2 separate regions of the Homo sapiens genome follow, and region 1 is linked to region 2. The links come from fine-mapping of genetic effects on gene expression. Tissue or cell type: cerebellum. Region 2 holds a variant in brackets; the other region holds the start of a gene. All regions are shown on one strand. Distances are between the middles of the regions.

Region 1 (8,194 bases), 260 kb before region 2:
TTCCACTAACACCCACCATCATCCCAAAGTAAAAATCAATTTCTAAATGAAATAGAATCATGTTAAAGTTGGCAGTACAAGAAAAGTGAAAAAAGATTACCATCTGGAAAATGAGTATTAATAACTAAAGAGCTTCAGGTTCTAACATAAATGAAAGATATTTAAAAGATCCTGACAATATTCCTTTTTCTGAAAAAGGAATGAACTATAAAACTATATTTTATAATGTTGAAAAATGCAGTGGGAGGCCTCAAATATGTTACATGGACTTGCTAAAAGTAATTTAGTAATAATAATAAAAATTGACAAGGGCAAGCTTTTCTTTGGGAAAGAATGTGTGAAATTGTGTCATGTTAATTAAACCCTGCTGTGGTAGGCAAGTAAGAAGCTGATTTACATGGAGTATGACCAAGAATACACTCTGTCTCTAGAACTGCAATTTTTAAAAGATGGATGGGAGAAAAGCTGCACTTGAGGGCATTAGCTTTGTTTGGTACATTAAATGGAAAATGACTTTCTATTATCATTCTCCCTCCATCTTTGTATTAGAAATTATGAAGAGAAGAATATGTTTTATTCACCTCCCTCAGTGTTATGCCATCCAGTGATGCAAGAGAAGAAAACTACCCCACTGCTGTTTGCTGTTTATTCTGCCCTATATGACTTAAGGGGGAAAATGTCTGCCTTTACCCTCTAAGATTGGACCAGAATGCATGCATCAAAATACGCTGACATATTCTGTCACACATGCTCACATATGACATATGTGAGTGCTGACAATGCAGCTTTTAGGGTCTAATCCAAACCTTTTCTTTGTCCTTCATTAGACTCATGGGAACAAGAGAGTGTTAACCTGGCCTCTCATTGGTTGCCTGGACCATTAGATGTAAAGTTACAGATCAGTGTTGGCTATGTTTTAGGGCAGGTTACATGAACCAGATAAGGAAAGACAGCCAATCTGCAGAGAGAAGATGATGCAAAAAGAGTAGAAACGAATAATGAAAAAATATGATATAGGGAGTCTTGAGGAGGTTGAAGGTTCTATTACTCTCTATTCTATGGACACATCAATAAAGGCGTCAGGTAAATTATTCTTCTGTTACCTTGGGCACATTTTAGAACAAGTGAGACTCAACCTAACAGCAGTAGCAAAAGAGGAGAAAGAAATCACCTGAACTAGACTGTATATACTTAGCTAGGGAAGGCACCACATTTAATTGTCCTGTGGACTCCTTTATGCCTGGTGCAAAAGTAGATGCTTAGTAAATACCTCCTGGGTGAATGAATGAGTATTTCATATGTAAGGGAAGTGATGGAAATTGTTGGAGTGGTATATGGATTACCTCTGTTCCATCAAGAGGCATATCAAGAACAAATATTTGAAACCTATAGAGAGACAATGTAGTATAACGGTTAAAGGAATGTGTGCTGGAGCCGGACTCAAACTGCATACCAGCTTCAGCACTTGCCAGGGATGTGATCTTAGGCAGGTAGGTAACCGCTCAGTGCCTCAATTTCCTCATTTGTGAAACAGGAATAATATTTACCTTAAATAATCTTTGTGAAGATTATATGAGCTAAAAATTAATATGTAAAGTAGAACAGTGCCTGGTACAAGGTAACTATTCTATGAGTAAAAACTGTAACATCTCTACTTAGCAGAAATCTAGACAATAGTACTTATCACCAAGTTAAATTTTGTATTATTCACTGATGTTTTCTCATCTATCTTCGTCCTGGCCTCCAGATCAATTTCTAAAATGTTGAACAAACAGGATAAAAAAGGGTCTCTGGAATCCTCATTTTTCAGGTGAAGAAACCAAGCCCCAGAGCCAGCAAGGGAGCTGTTCAAGGCCACTCCTGTCTTGGCAGAGCCAGTCCTAGAATTTAGGTCTACTTTCATGTTATTTTCAAATATTTTAATGAAAAAAAAAATTCAGCAATGAAACACATGTAAAATGGATACCCATAATTGAGATGCTTAAAGGTTTTAGGATAGGACTGCAATAATTGATTTTTAAGCTCTTATTTGGCAACAGGTAATCAAGAATTATAGCCCTCAGTAATTTGTAGAAGATTTGGGGAAATAATTTCTTATAGACATTAATTAATTGTAGTAGGTCCTGACTACTTTTTTTTTCTTGTCCTGTAACTTACATGAAATCGATGAAAATGTTTAGAGTAACATGAAAGAATAAATCACTCACTGTGATATCCAGGTATCTAAGAGTATAGTTTTTTACTATAAACAAACAGACAAACCAAGAAATATTAAAATCACCCCTTTACGAGAAACTTCAGTCATGAAATAGTTTTGAGGATTGTTCAGACTAATTATCTTTATAATGTAGGTCGTTACTTTTGTGGCCTGGCAGCATTCCTAATCTGGACAGGTGTTCAGAGTTCATGCATTTCAGTGTGAATGCTCATTTATAATAGACACAGCACAGGGAAAGTAAACTTCTACTGTTTTCCCTTACTGTCAGAACTGTTAAGCAATTAGAAATTCAAGGCATTCATTTAGTTGAGAATAGTGTTTTTATCCTTAATTCAATTTCCCTGATTTTATAGTGTATATAAATCACAAAGTATTTACATATAGTTTAAAAAAATATATTTTGCATCTTAACAAATGCACTTTTAAGGCTCTAATCACCAAAAAGCAGCTGAAACTCAATCAGGTTTCAAGGAAGTCATATAATCAGAGTCCCAAGATTAAAAGAAAAAAAATTGTAATTTCTTTACAGTTTTAAAATTTTGAAATGACAGGTAGACAATTACATATTTACATTTTAGCTTATAATAACTTCTTTAGCAGAATATATGGTTTAGAAAAAGAATCTCCAATGCCTGATTATCTCTTCTACTATATATTTTTTAACAAACTTTTCAGTTACACCAAAAATTAATATTTGCCTCAATGTTCAGAAATAATGCTTTTCTCAAGAAAATTAATTTAAAAAGAGGGTATATATAACTCCACCAAACTAAACTATAACAAATATCTCCAGAAAGAGATAAAAGTTTTATTTTATCTAAAACATTTTAGTAATGTAAGAATTCTTCATTTTAAAGACTATGAAGAAAATTAACTCATGTGACAAGCTCAAAATTAACATTATTTACACAAAGAAACAAATCTTCTGTTTTACCATCAAGATGATAAAGAAAAATGATAACAAAATTAGAAATGGTAGATACTGTGTTAACCAGAGAAAGAAAAAAAAGAGCTTATCTTAGGCAAGCCTCTTTATATGTTCAGTACTATTTTAAAAAGGAGCCTCCTTCAAACTTATATTTGAAATCTCCATCTTAAATATAATATTGATAGGAAGGTATGGATGAAGAAAAAGGGAAAAAAATTCCCTTCAGCTGAATATCGGATATTCTAGAGTTTCTCTGCCATATCATCCTGCTCTCTGGTGGTGAACAGCATTGCTCAGTAGTTGATAACATGAAATTTTCTAAGGGCAAAAAAAAAAAACAAAAAAAAAGTGTGTGTCCCAGATCAGTTGCACACATCTCAATATTTGATTTGTATTTTAATTTAATACAAATGTATTAAGAATGTAGCTGTTTGCATTGTCTAGAAGGGTTTTCTTCTAAACTCTTCCAGATTACATGTTGCTATATTTCAATATGTTTATAAAGAATATAGATACTAATACATTTTCGACATTAAATAACTCTGATGCTTAAACAGTATCCAGCTATTAGAAAAACTATTTGAAAAAGGATCTGAGTAAACCCCTTAAAGATGTAACTTTGCTTTTACCTGCCCCCACAAAATGGATATATTAAATAGAAGATATATCTGTTTTCTTTAAATTTAAAGTTTCTGTATTTGATACCTAGATTGATTCTTTCCATTTCCATTTAATTTTATTAATTGTATAGTTTTAAATAATGTCTATAAACTGCATCAAATAGAAAGCCTTTTGAGGATCATTACTGTGTAGATAGGCAGGTAGTTTAAAGTCTCTGATATTCCTTACAAAATTCTGTCAAGGCAACAGACATGTGTTCTGTTAAACAGATCTACTTCAGAATCATTATAAGTTGGTGAATATCTTAAACAATTACAAGAGGTCATTTCTTTAGTACCATAATCTTATGAAAGGGAAGCTTTAAAATCATCCCTGAATGAGACGGTCCTTTGTTTCACTTAATTTAATCAAAATACTCTATATTTCTTCTTCAAGAATAAAATGAAGCACTTGTTCAATCTTGAAATTTTTAGATTATTTGAAAGCAAAGTTGTTATCTCTTAAAAGCCCCTACATTTATGAGTGAGGCATTAATGCACAGTATAAATAAATAAATACACTTACCTGGAATTAAAGTTCAGAGCTGAAAATGCTTGAGAAAGTTGCAATAGATGGAAAAGAAACGGAAACAGTACCACTCGTTACCATCGGCTCAGGCTTTTTGACTTTACAAGTGGTAGCAACACCAGTCCTGGCCCAGTACTCTCATGTTATGTAACATCTTATTAATATTAGCCATCAAACTGCTACCAAGCTGGTGAGGCACTAGAGGGCAAGAGTGTCACATGCAAGACCCGTCGCCAAGGGACCGGCTTTGGTACCACTTCGGGGGAAGACAGATGCTAACTAAGCTGATGAATAACAGGATGCCCGAATACAACAGCAAACTTGTAACGTTCCTCAAAGAATATTTTACATGTCAATTTTCTGACTAGCGGAAGAGTTAACAGGTTAATAAATATGAGCAAGCAAATAACCACACCATGAAAAACTTTTAGGATTATATTTACAAACCCACAGTCACTCAAGAGGCTGTTTGTTTTTTTCTTTCCATTGTCTAAATAAACTTATTTAAAACAGGAGAAAAAAGCTGGTTAAATAAAACGAGTGTCGGTTTCAGGACTCCCTCATTCCAAGCCGCGAGAAACTTGTCTGGTCGAGATGCCGCCTCTGGAGTCCGCATTCCAAGGCGCCCGGATCGGGTTTCTGGGCGAGGAGACCGGCCCCGTCCTCCATGGAGATTACCTGGGGCTGCAGCCGTCCGCGGGCTCCTCCTTCCCTCGGGTCTTCGGCCTCAGCCGCTCCCCAGGGCCCCTCGTCCGGGTGGCGCTTGGGTGCTACGCGGTGCCCGGGGTCCGGCGGGGGCGACAAGCGGGCGACCTCTCCCCTCCGCGCCCGGGATCTGCGCGGACACAGCTGGTGGCGACTTCGGCCGCTCAGGCTGCGGCTGCGGGGCGAGCGCAGCGGGTGCGCCGGGGACTCCTGCGCTGGAGAACCACGGCCCTGGGACCCGCCCGGCCGCGCCTCCGCCGCCCTCGCCACCGCCTCCCGGGCGGGAGCCGCCGCCTCCCAGCTCCCGGCCCGCGCGCGCCCGCCCCGGGGAAGGGGAGGGAGCGGGAGCTGAGGACGGGAGCCGCCTCCATCGACCGGGCTCCCGCCCGGACCGGCCCTGAGGATCTGGCTGCCCGGGCCTCGACAAGGAGACCCCGGGGGTTCCGCCCCGGCCTGCCAGTTCCGACCGCCCCTCCCGGCGGGTTGGCGGCGGCCGCCAAGGATGAAACGTCTTGTGCGGCCAGGGAAAGGGGTGCGAGTCCCCGAGGCGACGCTGGAAGGGTGGGGCGCACCCGCGCGGTCCCTTCCTGTGGTGCTCCTGCCGTTGGCACTGGACCAGGGCGGCTGCGAGGCTGCAAGAGTTTCCTCTGTTCGCCAGTTTTTTTCAAATGCCATGTGTTTCAGCTCCTGAAGACAAGTGGAAGGCCAGCAACTGAAGAGATATTTTGGATTCAAGGTGTGAGGTTACCCTCTCCAGAACTATAGTTTGATTAGAAGTGTGAATCGAATGATATATATTTTTAAAAATTTCATTTGGTTCCACTAACATGTGAATTGTATTAAGTGGGGTCTACTAATGATACTTTGTATTGGCCATTTGTGGTTTTGCTTCCCAGCACTCACTCTTGTTGAAACAGTACTCCTGTTCATTTTGGAAGATCCAACCACTTGATCTCACCCCGCAGCCCATTTGCTTTAGGTGATGTCAGCCGCTGCTGACTCACTGGTAGACCCACAGCTCAGGTCTGGCCAGTGATGGCTTTCTGTCCTGGTAGCATGGGTAGGTATGTAACCCAGGTCTGGCCAATCAGAGAGAAAAACAGAAAAAAACCACCATTCTGGGACTTTTTTTTTTCCTTCCTCTCTTAAGAAAGTGGACTCTCTTCTACTGGACTTTGCATAATGAAGATGTGAGCTTAGAGCTTGAAGTCTGAAAATAAAGCTGATACTCAGGAAGGCAGAACTGAGAGTTGGAGAAAAGTGAAACCCAGATGGAGATTTTCGAGCTTGGAATCGAGCTGTAGCTGAAATAAGTTCTATCTCTGGATATTTTCATTCATAAACAAATACATTCACTTTTTTTTTTGATTCGGAGTCGCGCTCTGTCGCCCAGGCTGGAGTGCAGTGGCGTGATCTCAGCTCACTGCAAGCTACGTCTCCCGGGTTCCCACCATTCTCCTGCCTCAGCCTCCCGAGTAGCTGGGACTATAGGAGCCCGCCACCAGGCCCGGATAATTTTTTGTATTTTGGTAGAGACGGGGTTTCACCGTGTAAGCCAGGATGGTCTCGATTTACTGACCTCGAGATCCGCCCACCTCGGCATCCCAAAGTGCTGGGATTACAGACTTGAGCCACCGCGACTGGCCACATTCACTTTTGTCTTAAGGCAGCTTGGACTGCATTTGCTGTCCCTTGAAACTGAAAGAGACACAAACGATGATACAGTAATTAAATATTCTGGTTGTTTATTAACTTTATCAGGGTATTTGGATTCGTAGTTCAAGACCTTCAATTAGAACCCAATGTCCTGAAAGGGTTAGTTGGAATTGTGTTTTAAAATCAGGAAGTTATATATCCTTTTTGTTCTATGTGATGGAGGGGTTACAGATGTGACTGAACCAATTGCTCCTTCTGGAAGCCCACAAAAATGTCAGGATGCTAGAATTCTTTGGCCAAGTAACATGTATTAGATTGGTTTTATTTATTTTTTAGTTGGAGTGTTCCCTGGAAGTCTTGTGCCTTTTAAGAATTTTAAGAACCCACATTTATTTTTCTATGTACTCCTTACCCAAGAGAGAGCCTGCTCTGTCTTCCGAGCAGCCATGCATTCATCATTTTAGTAATCAAAAAAATTATTGAACACCTACTAAATGGCTCTGGGAATACAATAATATTGAAAAAAGAAAAGCAGGACCACTCTCTGCCCTTCAGTCGCTTATATTGATATAGCTGTAGGAGGTCAGGCTCTTCTACAAGATTTCAGAGAATAGACAAGATTCATGAATTCATAAATTCCTAAATGTTTCAGGGAATGTAGGCAGATTCAGAAATGATATTCACTTTTTCTTTTCTTTTTCTACCTCCTCTGCACAAAAACACAAAACCAGAAAAACTTCTTCTACAAAATAAGATACTTACTATTCTTATGACTGTATTTTGGGGTTTTCTTCAGCTAAGATGGATAGGAGACATAATCAAATTTCTCATTGTTTTTGGGAGAGTTGTTACCTTTACCAGCTACTGCTCCTTCCAACCATCCATCTGGAATTACAAACAGCTTAGGATCATGCTGTCTTTTCCTATGAGATCCTCAAATCTTACACCTCTATTAGAGAAGTCCTCATCTGCACACATATGTCGTCTAAGCCAGTGTAATAGCAGATTGATATGTTGCCTATATTTCCTTTCACTCCTGGGCTGCGTGCCCAGCAGAGAGGTAAGAAGGGACAGACATCAGGGCCAACCATTGCCCCCTGTAGCCCTCCCTTCCAATCTTCTGTTCCTAACCCAGGGACATTAAGGCCAGCGAAAAATTTTCCTCCAGAGAGGTATTCCTATTTAGTCTAACACTGTGGCAGTGCCCAAGTAGAGGTGGAGAAGGCCATCTGATTCAGGGCCAGACATTTGTGAAGCACTTCAAATAGAGTCATCTCCAAATGAACTTGTGCAATACATATATGTATATATATATATATATATATATATTCTTTTTTTTTTTTTTTTTTGAGATGGAGTCTTACTCTGTTGCCCAGGCTGGAGTGCAGTGATACGATCTTGGCTCACTGCAATGTCTGCCTCCCAGGTTCAAGCGATTCTCCTGTCTCAGCCTCCCAAGTAGCTGGGATTACAGGCACATGCCACCATGTCCAGCTAAT
Region 2 (8,194 bases):
TCACTTTTGATATTGTATGAGCCACCCCGATGAATTTATTCTCTCAAATTTACCTGTCCACTGGTAAATTGATATGGGAAGATTAATGGGCTGTGGAGCCATATCAACATAACTCTTGCAAGTTTTGCACACTATAATACAGTTTCACTAAAACACAGTTCAGTTATATATATTACTAGTGTGAAATGATATTTAAGGATGCATAGTATTCTTTACTTGATTTATAGTATTCAAATCATCTCCTGTCATTGGACATTTAGGTTGTTTATAATGTTTTATCATTTTACAGTCACTGACATTGTAATACAATTAGGGTGAGATTCTGGTTGTTTTAATAGTATAAAATCCTATCAACAAAATTTTCAAATCAAAATAAAGGTCATTAATGTATATTGAGAAATAAATTCTAAAAATATTATAGAAATTTACCAGTAGGATCTTAAAATTTGTGCCCTTGCTTACACTGGATAGAATATTCGTTATTATTATTTTAATTTCACAAATATTAAGGAAGAAAAACATCTCATTAATTTATTGATCTGATGTTTTTTGATTAACTAAGACAATACAGATTTGTCAGTTATAATTTTGACTTTTGTAAATTCCTTTTATATGCACCATTCCTGATGTATCCAATAGGATTTTTTGAGGGTTATGTAATTTATTTAAATTTTAAATTTTTATTTTTATGGGTACATAGTAGGTGTATATATTTATGGGGTACATGAAATATTTTCACATAGACATATAATATGTAATAATCACATCAGGGTAGGTGAGTATGCATCTCCTCAAGCATTTATCATTTCTTTATGTTACAGATATTTCAATTATATTGTTTCAGTTATTTTTAAAATATACAATAAATTATTGTTAACTGTAGTCACCCTGTTGTGCCATCAAATACTAAATCGTATTTATTCTATCTGACTGTATTTTTGTACCCATAAACCATCCCCCACCAACTATCCTTCATAGCCTCTAGAAACCATCATTCTACTCTCTCTCTCCATGAGTCAATTTCATTTAATCTTTAGCTACAACAAATAAATGAGAACATGTGAAGTTTGTCTTTCTGTGCCTGGCTTACTTCACTTAACATGATGTCCTCCACTTTCATTCACATTGCTGCAAATGACAAGATCTCATTATTTTTAATGGTGGAACAGTACGCCATTGTGTATATGTACCACATCTTTATCCATTCATTTGTTGATGGACACTTAAATTGCTTCCAAATCGTGGCTATTGTGAATAATGCTGCAATAAACATGGAAGTGCAGATATCTTTTTGATATACTAATTTTTTTTGGGGGGGGGGGTATATACCTAACAGTGGGATTGCTAGGTCATATGATAGCACCATTTTTAGTTTTTTGAGGAATCTCCATACTGTTCTCCATAGTGGCTGTACTAATTTACATTCCCACAAACAGTGTATGAGGGTTCCCATTTCTCCACATCCTTGCCAGCATTCATTATTGCTCATTTTTGGATAAAAACCATTTTAAGTGGGGTGGGATAATATTGTAGTTTTGATTCGTATTACTCTGATAATCATGATGTTGAGCACCTTCTCATAAACCTGTTGGCAATTCATATGTCTTCTTTTGAGAATAAATTTTTAAATCAGATTGTTAGATGTTTTTCCTATAGAGTTGTTTGAGCTCTTTATATATTCTGGTTATTAATCCTTTGTCAGCTGGGTAGTTTGCAAATATTTTCTTCAATTTGGTGGGTTGTCTCTCTCTTTACTTTATTGATTGTTTCCTTTGTTGTGCAGAAGTTTATCAGTTTGATGTAATTCCATTTGTCCATTTTTGCTTAGGTTGCCTGTGCTTGTAGAGTATTGCTCAGGAAACCTTTATCCAGAGCAGTGTCCTAGAGAGCTTTCTCAACATTTCCTTGTAGTAGTTTCATTGTTTGAGGTCTTAGATTTAAGTCTTTAATCAACTTTGATTTGATTTTTGCATGTGGTGAGAGATAAGGGTCTAGTTTCATTCTTCTTATAGATATCCAGTTTTCCCAGCACCACTTATTGAAGAGACTGTTCTTTTCCCAGTGTATGTTCTTGACACCTTTTTTGAAAATGAGTTCCCTGTAGATATGTGAATTTGTTTCTGAGTTCTCTATTCTATTACATTGGCCTATGTATCTATTGTTATGCCAGTACCATGCTTTTTTGGTTACAATAGCTCTATAATGTAATTTCAAGTGAGGTAATTTGATTCTTCCAGTTTTGCTCTTCTTACTGAGGATGGCTTTGGCTATTCTGGGTCTTTTGCCATTCCATATACATTTTAGAATTGTATGTTCTATTTCTGTGAAGAATGTCATTGGTATTTTGATCGGGGTTTTATTGATCTGTAGATTGCTTGGAGTAGTAAAAATATTTTAACAATATTGATTCTTTTGATCCACGAATGTGGAATATTTTTCCTTTTATTGTGTGTCCTTTTCAATTTCTTGTATCAATGTTTTACAGTTTTCATTGTAACCATGTTTTGGTTAAGTTTATTCCTGGGTATCTTATTTGCTTTTTAGCTATTTTAATTAGGATTACTTTCTTCATTTCTTTTTAGGTTGTTTGCTGTTGGCATATATAAATGTTACTGACTTTTGTATGTTCTAATAGTTTTTTTGTTGGAATCTAGGTTTTTCCAAATATAAGATCATATCATCTGAAAATAAGGATAATTTGACTTCTCCTTTGCAATTTGGATGCCCTTTATTTTTGTTGTTGTTGTCTGATTGCCCCAGCTAGGACTTCCAGTACTATGTTGTATAATAACGGTGAAAACTGACATCCTTGTCTTGTTCTTAAAGGAAAGACTTTCAGTTTTTCCCCATTGAGAATTATACTAGCTGTTAGTCTGTTGTATATGGCTTTTATTGTGTTCAGTTATGTTCTTTCTACACCCAGTTTTGTGAGGGTTTTTATCATAAAGGATGTTGGAATTTATGGAATGTTTTTTCAACATCAATTAAAATGATCATATGGGTTTACCCTTCATTCTGTTGATACGATGTATCACATTCATTGATTTGCATATGCTGGTTGGACCATCTGTGGGATATATCCCATTTGATCATAAGGATAATCTTTCTAACATGTTGTTGAATTTAGTTTGCTAGTATTCCTTTGAGGACATTTTCATCAATGTTCATCAGAGCTATTGTCCTGTAATTTTCTTCTTTTCACGTGTCTTTCTCTGGCTTTAGTAATAAGGTAATACTGGCCTCATAGAGTGAGTTTGGAAATATTGTTATCTTTCTCTAGATTTTGAAAGTTCTTTGCTATTATCTATTTTAATAAACTTGCTACCCCAATCTTTCTTTCTACCTCCTTTTTACGACAAGTAACTCTTAGATTTGCCATTTTGTGGCTATTTCCTAGATTTCGTGGGCATGCTTTATTTCTTTTCATTATTTTTTCTTTTGTCTCCTCTGACTATGTATTTTCAAATGGCCTGTCCTCAGTGCTTTCTTCCACTTTATCCATTGTGCTGTTGAGAGACTCTGATGCAGTCTTGAGTTTGTCAATTCAATGTTTCAGCTCCAGAAATTCTCCTTGATATTTTTTAATTATCTCAATCTTTTTGTTAAATTTATCTGATAGAATTCTGAATTCCTTCTCTATGTTATTTTTAATTTCATTGAGCTTCCTCAAAACAGCTATTTTAAAATTCTCTGTCTGAAAAATTACATATCTCTGTCACTCTGGGATTAGTCACTGGTGCCTTATTTAGTTTGTTTAGTGAGGTCACATTTTCCTGGGTAGTCTTGATGCTTGTGAATATTTGTCAATGTTTGGGTATTTATTGTAGTCTCACAGTCTGGATTGTTTGTACTCCTTCTTGGGAAGGCTTTCTAAGTATTCAAAGGGAATTTAGTGTTGTGATCTAAGTCCTTTGTCACTGCAGCCATATCTGCATTAGTGGTTACCCCAAGTCCAGTAACATTGTGATTCTTGCAGACTTGTAGAAGCAGTGTCTTGGTGGTCTTGGGAAAGATCCAAGAAAATGCCCTGGATTACCAGGCAGAAACTTTTTTCTCCCTTATTTCCCTCAAACAAACAGAGTCTGTCTCTCTGTGTGCTGAGCTGCCTCAAGCTGGGGGAGAGGTGACTCAAGTCCCTCTGTGGCCACCATAACTTAGACTGCACTGATTGAGAACTGAAGCCAGCACAACACTGGGTCTCACCCAAGGCCTGTGATGACCACTGACTGGCTCCCATTGGTGTTCTTTCAAGGCCCAAGAGTTTTTCAGGCAGCAGGTG[G/T]TAAATAGGCTTGTGTCCCTCCCTTCAAGTTGGCAAGCTCCCCACTAGCCCGGAGCTGTTCCAGAAATGCCATATGGGAGCCAGGCCCTAGAGTCAGGAAACATAAGAATCTACTCTGTGCTCTATTCTACTGTGGCTAAGCTGGCACTAAAGACACTTGACAAAGTTCTTCTTACTCTTCCCTCTTCTTTCTTCGTGTAGAAGGCCCACAGTGAGTACTGTCTGGCTACTGCTGATGTTCACTCAAGGACCAAGGCCTCTTCAGTCAGCTTGTGGTGAATGCTGCCAGGCTTCGGTCTCTTTCTTCAGGGCAATGTTTCTCTTCTACCTCGGAGCATGTCCAGAAGTGCCATCCAGGAGCCAAGGCCTAGAACTGGGAACTCTAGGATCCTGCTTGGTTCTCTACTCCACTGTGGCTGAGCTGGTGCCCAAGCTGCAAGACAAGTCCCCTTTACTCTTCCCTCTACTTTCCTCAAGCTGAGGAAGTCTCTGTCTGTGGCCACCACAGCTGAGAATGGGCTGGGTTACACCTGAAGCCAACATGGCTCTGGGTCTCACCCAAGAACTGTGTTGAATATGGCCTAGGTACTTCTGATGTTTACTTAAGGCCCAAAGCACTCTTTAGTCAGCAGGTGATGAATCCTGCCAGGACTGGATCCCTCCCTTCAAGGCAGCCGGTTCCCTTCTGGCCCAAGATGTGTCCAGAAAAGTCCAGGAGCTAGAACCCAGAATAAGGTCTCAGGACACCACCCAGTGCCCTGTTCTACTGTAGCTTAGCTGGTATCCAGATTGCAAGGCAATGTACTTTTTAAACTTCCTTTTCCTCTCCTCAAGTAGGAGTCTCTCCCAGAACTATGAGCTGTGCTGCCTGTGGTTGTGGGAGGGGTGATGCAAGCACTCCCTTGGCCACCCCAGCTGGTGTCTCGCTAGGTTGTGTGCACCCCAAATCCACTGGTTCTGAGCCCAGCACAGCAGCAGGACTAGCCCAGGAATTGCAATTCTCGTGGCTTATACTGCCTTTTGAATTTATTTCAAACCCCGGAGCACTTTAGCCCTTTGTGGTGAGTCTAGCTAGAACTCAGGTTCCAACTGCCGGGATGGAATGATTCCCCTTTGGCTAGGGCTGATCTAAGTGCTCCCTTTCTGGGTACTGGCTGAATTCTGCCCTCTGTTGTTTTCCAGTGTGAATTCTGCCCTCTGTTGTTTTCAGTTAGCACTGAATTTCAATGCAAGGTCCCTTAATGTCTGCACTCTCCCTCTTCCAAGGACACAGATTCTCCAGATTCTCTCTGTGTCATGAGGTTGCTGAAGGGGGATGAGGGAAGGTGATCTTGTCAATTCAAGACTGTTTTTCCTACCCTTTCAGTACCTCTTTCCTTGATATGATGTTAAAACCAGGTACTGTGATCTCTCAACCAATTTTTTGTTCTTATAAAGGTGCTTTCTTGTGTAGATAGTTGTTCAGTTTGCTTCTCCTGCAGGGGGAGCGATCGCTGGAAGACTCTGGCCATCTTGCTCCACGTCCCACAAATTTAGAAAAATTAATTATAAGACTTTAATATGAAATATATTATATTTTTAAATAAATATTATATGTTTATATAATGTATGTATTATCTTTATGTGCCCTGCATACATTATATAATCTCCCTCAGTTTGTCATCTACCTTTCAATGTAATGTTTTATTTTAGATACATAGTTTTAAAAATTTCTGCAATCATATCTACTGATTTTTTCTTTTTTATGTATTTGCATTTATTTTTAGAAAAGCTTCTCTCAGATTCAACATCAGATAAATATTAAACTAAGTTATTTTCCTGGTTTTTAATGTTCCCTCTTCCCCAACCCAATCATTTAGTTCTAGATTTTGCCAAACAAAGTTTTTTCTTTCATTTGGAAAAACATCATTACAGTTAAATTGATTTTTGGACCTTACTTTCTCTAACTGATAAGAATGAAAGACTATTTACAAATATTGAAGTAACATAAAATGATCTGTCTCATTTATTTTTTCCCACTGTCTCTCACTTACCAATTTTTAACATTTAATCTGGACACTGTATTTACATCATTTTGCTTAAAACTTTTTTATATCATTTCTCTTATTCTGGTAATAGATGTAGTTACTTTGCTGGGCTTTACAATTTTCTTACCAACTGAAATTCCTTTTTATCATGCTTTTACCTGTTAATTTTGGTTTTTGTCTTGGTTTGCTGGAATATATATAGCTAAAAGCCTTTAGTTACTGGTGAAGCAGGATATTTTCCTGACCCCTTCATGGGACTCACAACAAGGTTGCCTCATTAACTCAACCCACAGCTTTCAACTCCTTGTGGGAGGGAGTGCATCAGTGAACAAGGTGGGAACTGGAGTGCATGAGTGCTGGAACCAGCTGGTTGCCTTGGCACTGGCAGGGGTGAACTCTGCTCACTTGGACCTGCTGCGTTTCATCCCTTGTGGGAGGGAGCATGCAGGTGAGAGAGTGCAGGAGCTGGGGCAAGCACTTTTGGGTGCTGGCAGGAACGAACAGCACACAGGCCCCACAGAAGCATCAAGGGGGTGTCCCCACAACCCCTGAAGCCCCAGAGGGAGTGTTACCATGCTCTTTTAGCTCTAGCATCTATGATGGCTTAAGTGTTAACAGCTCAGTGGGCTCTCTGCATTTTTGGCAAAGGGTCAATGTGACAGCCTTTTGTATCCACACTCATGGCTCCCAAGCTCTTGTTCAATGTCCAGGAGAAATGAGGTCAGACGAATAAAGTGAAGGACAGTAAATGCAGGGGATTTTATTGCTAGTGAAAGTGGCTGTCAGCAGGAAGGGGAACTGAAAAGGAAAAGGGGCAGTAAGGTAATGTTCCCCTGAAGTCCAGCCATCTCCAGCCAGATTCTTTTCTGAAGTTACATCACCAAGCTGTCTGTCTGAAGTCAAGCTGCTTCTCTCCAACATCCAGTCATAGTCTCTAATGTCCAGCTGCTTTTCCCTACTCTGCCAGCTGAACCTGGGGTTTTTATGGGCACAGGATGGGGGGCAGGGTGGACCATGCATTGTTTTGAAAAAGGCAACATTGGAGCAGGAAAACACGGATATAAGTTCTCACTTTGTGCCATGGTCTCAGGCTTTGTGGCTTGAGGGTGGGACTTCACCAGGGACCTGCCCTTTTCTGCTTAGAATTTCTCTGCCTCCTGTCCCTATCAACAGTGGTCTGTATTTCCTTGTCTGAGATTATTTTCAGTCTTTGGGATACCACCTTTTCCATAACTCAGACCACTACAGAATCATAGGTTTTAGGGTGTATTTATTTCAGTGCATTTGTTTGCTATAAATGTAGTTCACATGTATTTACTAGGTAAGGATATGTTAGAATTTATTTTTTATAGTTTGCAATAGCATTTATTATGAAATAGAAATAATATGTTTTCACCCTGTTATTTAACCAGTTTTAATTTTGATAATTAACTGAATAGGGAAGAAGTATTTTAAAATTATGGCATATTCAGTGCAAACACAACAAATGATAAGGGATTCTTGAGTGAAAACATTGTACTGGAGTACATATAACTCCTTTTTATTTTATAGTATTTTTATAAGAACTAGACAAAGCTTTCTATTTTCTTTCTATTCCCTTTTCTTGTAATCACTGACATGTTCATTATCTATGTATTTACAGATTATGTTTAAATATGCATCCACATTTCCAAATTTTTCTGATCTTTGGGCGTGCTCTCCCTCCCCAGATTTTCCATCGACATTTTCACTTATATGTTGTGTTACTTCATAATCAACATTTAAAAACTGAATTTGTGGTCTTTCTTGGCAGATGCTGTCTTCTGACTACCCTAAATCTCTTAATGTACTGCCTACAATGACTTCCAGCATATTTATGAACAGGTTTGATTTGAATGTTTTGTCTGAC

Alleles and levels. Alleles are on the strand shown, and positions count from the first base shown. SD is a standard deviation of normalised expression in the study named.
For the expression in cerebellum of the gene that starts at base 4,438 in region 1, allele T in region 2 goes with a higher level than allele G (large effect, 1.0 SD a copy in GTEx).

The links. PIP is the estimated chance that this variant, and not a neighbour inherited with it, causes the effect.
Region 1: it holds the start of NDST3, and the variant in region 2 is fine-mapped to the expression of NDST3 in cerebellum (GTEx, PIP above 0.99). The same link has a PIP of 0.9 or more in cerebellar hemisphere.

Annotation. Positions count from the first base shown.
Region 1 is chr4:118,030,730-118,038,923 of GRCh38, reverse strand. NDST3 (N-deacetylase and N-sulfotransferase 3) reads right to left here and starts at 4,438. Exons shown (of 14, transcript NM_004784.3): 1 at 4,332-4,438.
Region 2 is chr4:117,769,389-117,777,582 of GRCh38, reverse strand. No RefSeq gene overlaps it. Among named protein-coding and RNA genes, the nearest start is that of LINC02264, 61 kb to the left of the region's middle. RefSeq lists an enhancer at 4,223-4,723. The variant G/T (reference allele first, on the strand shown) is at 4,280.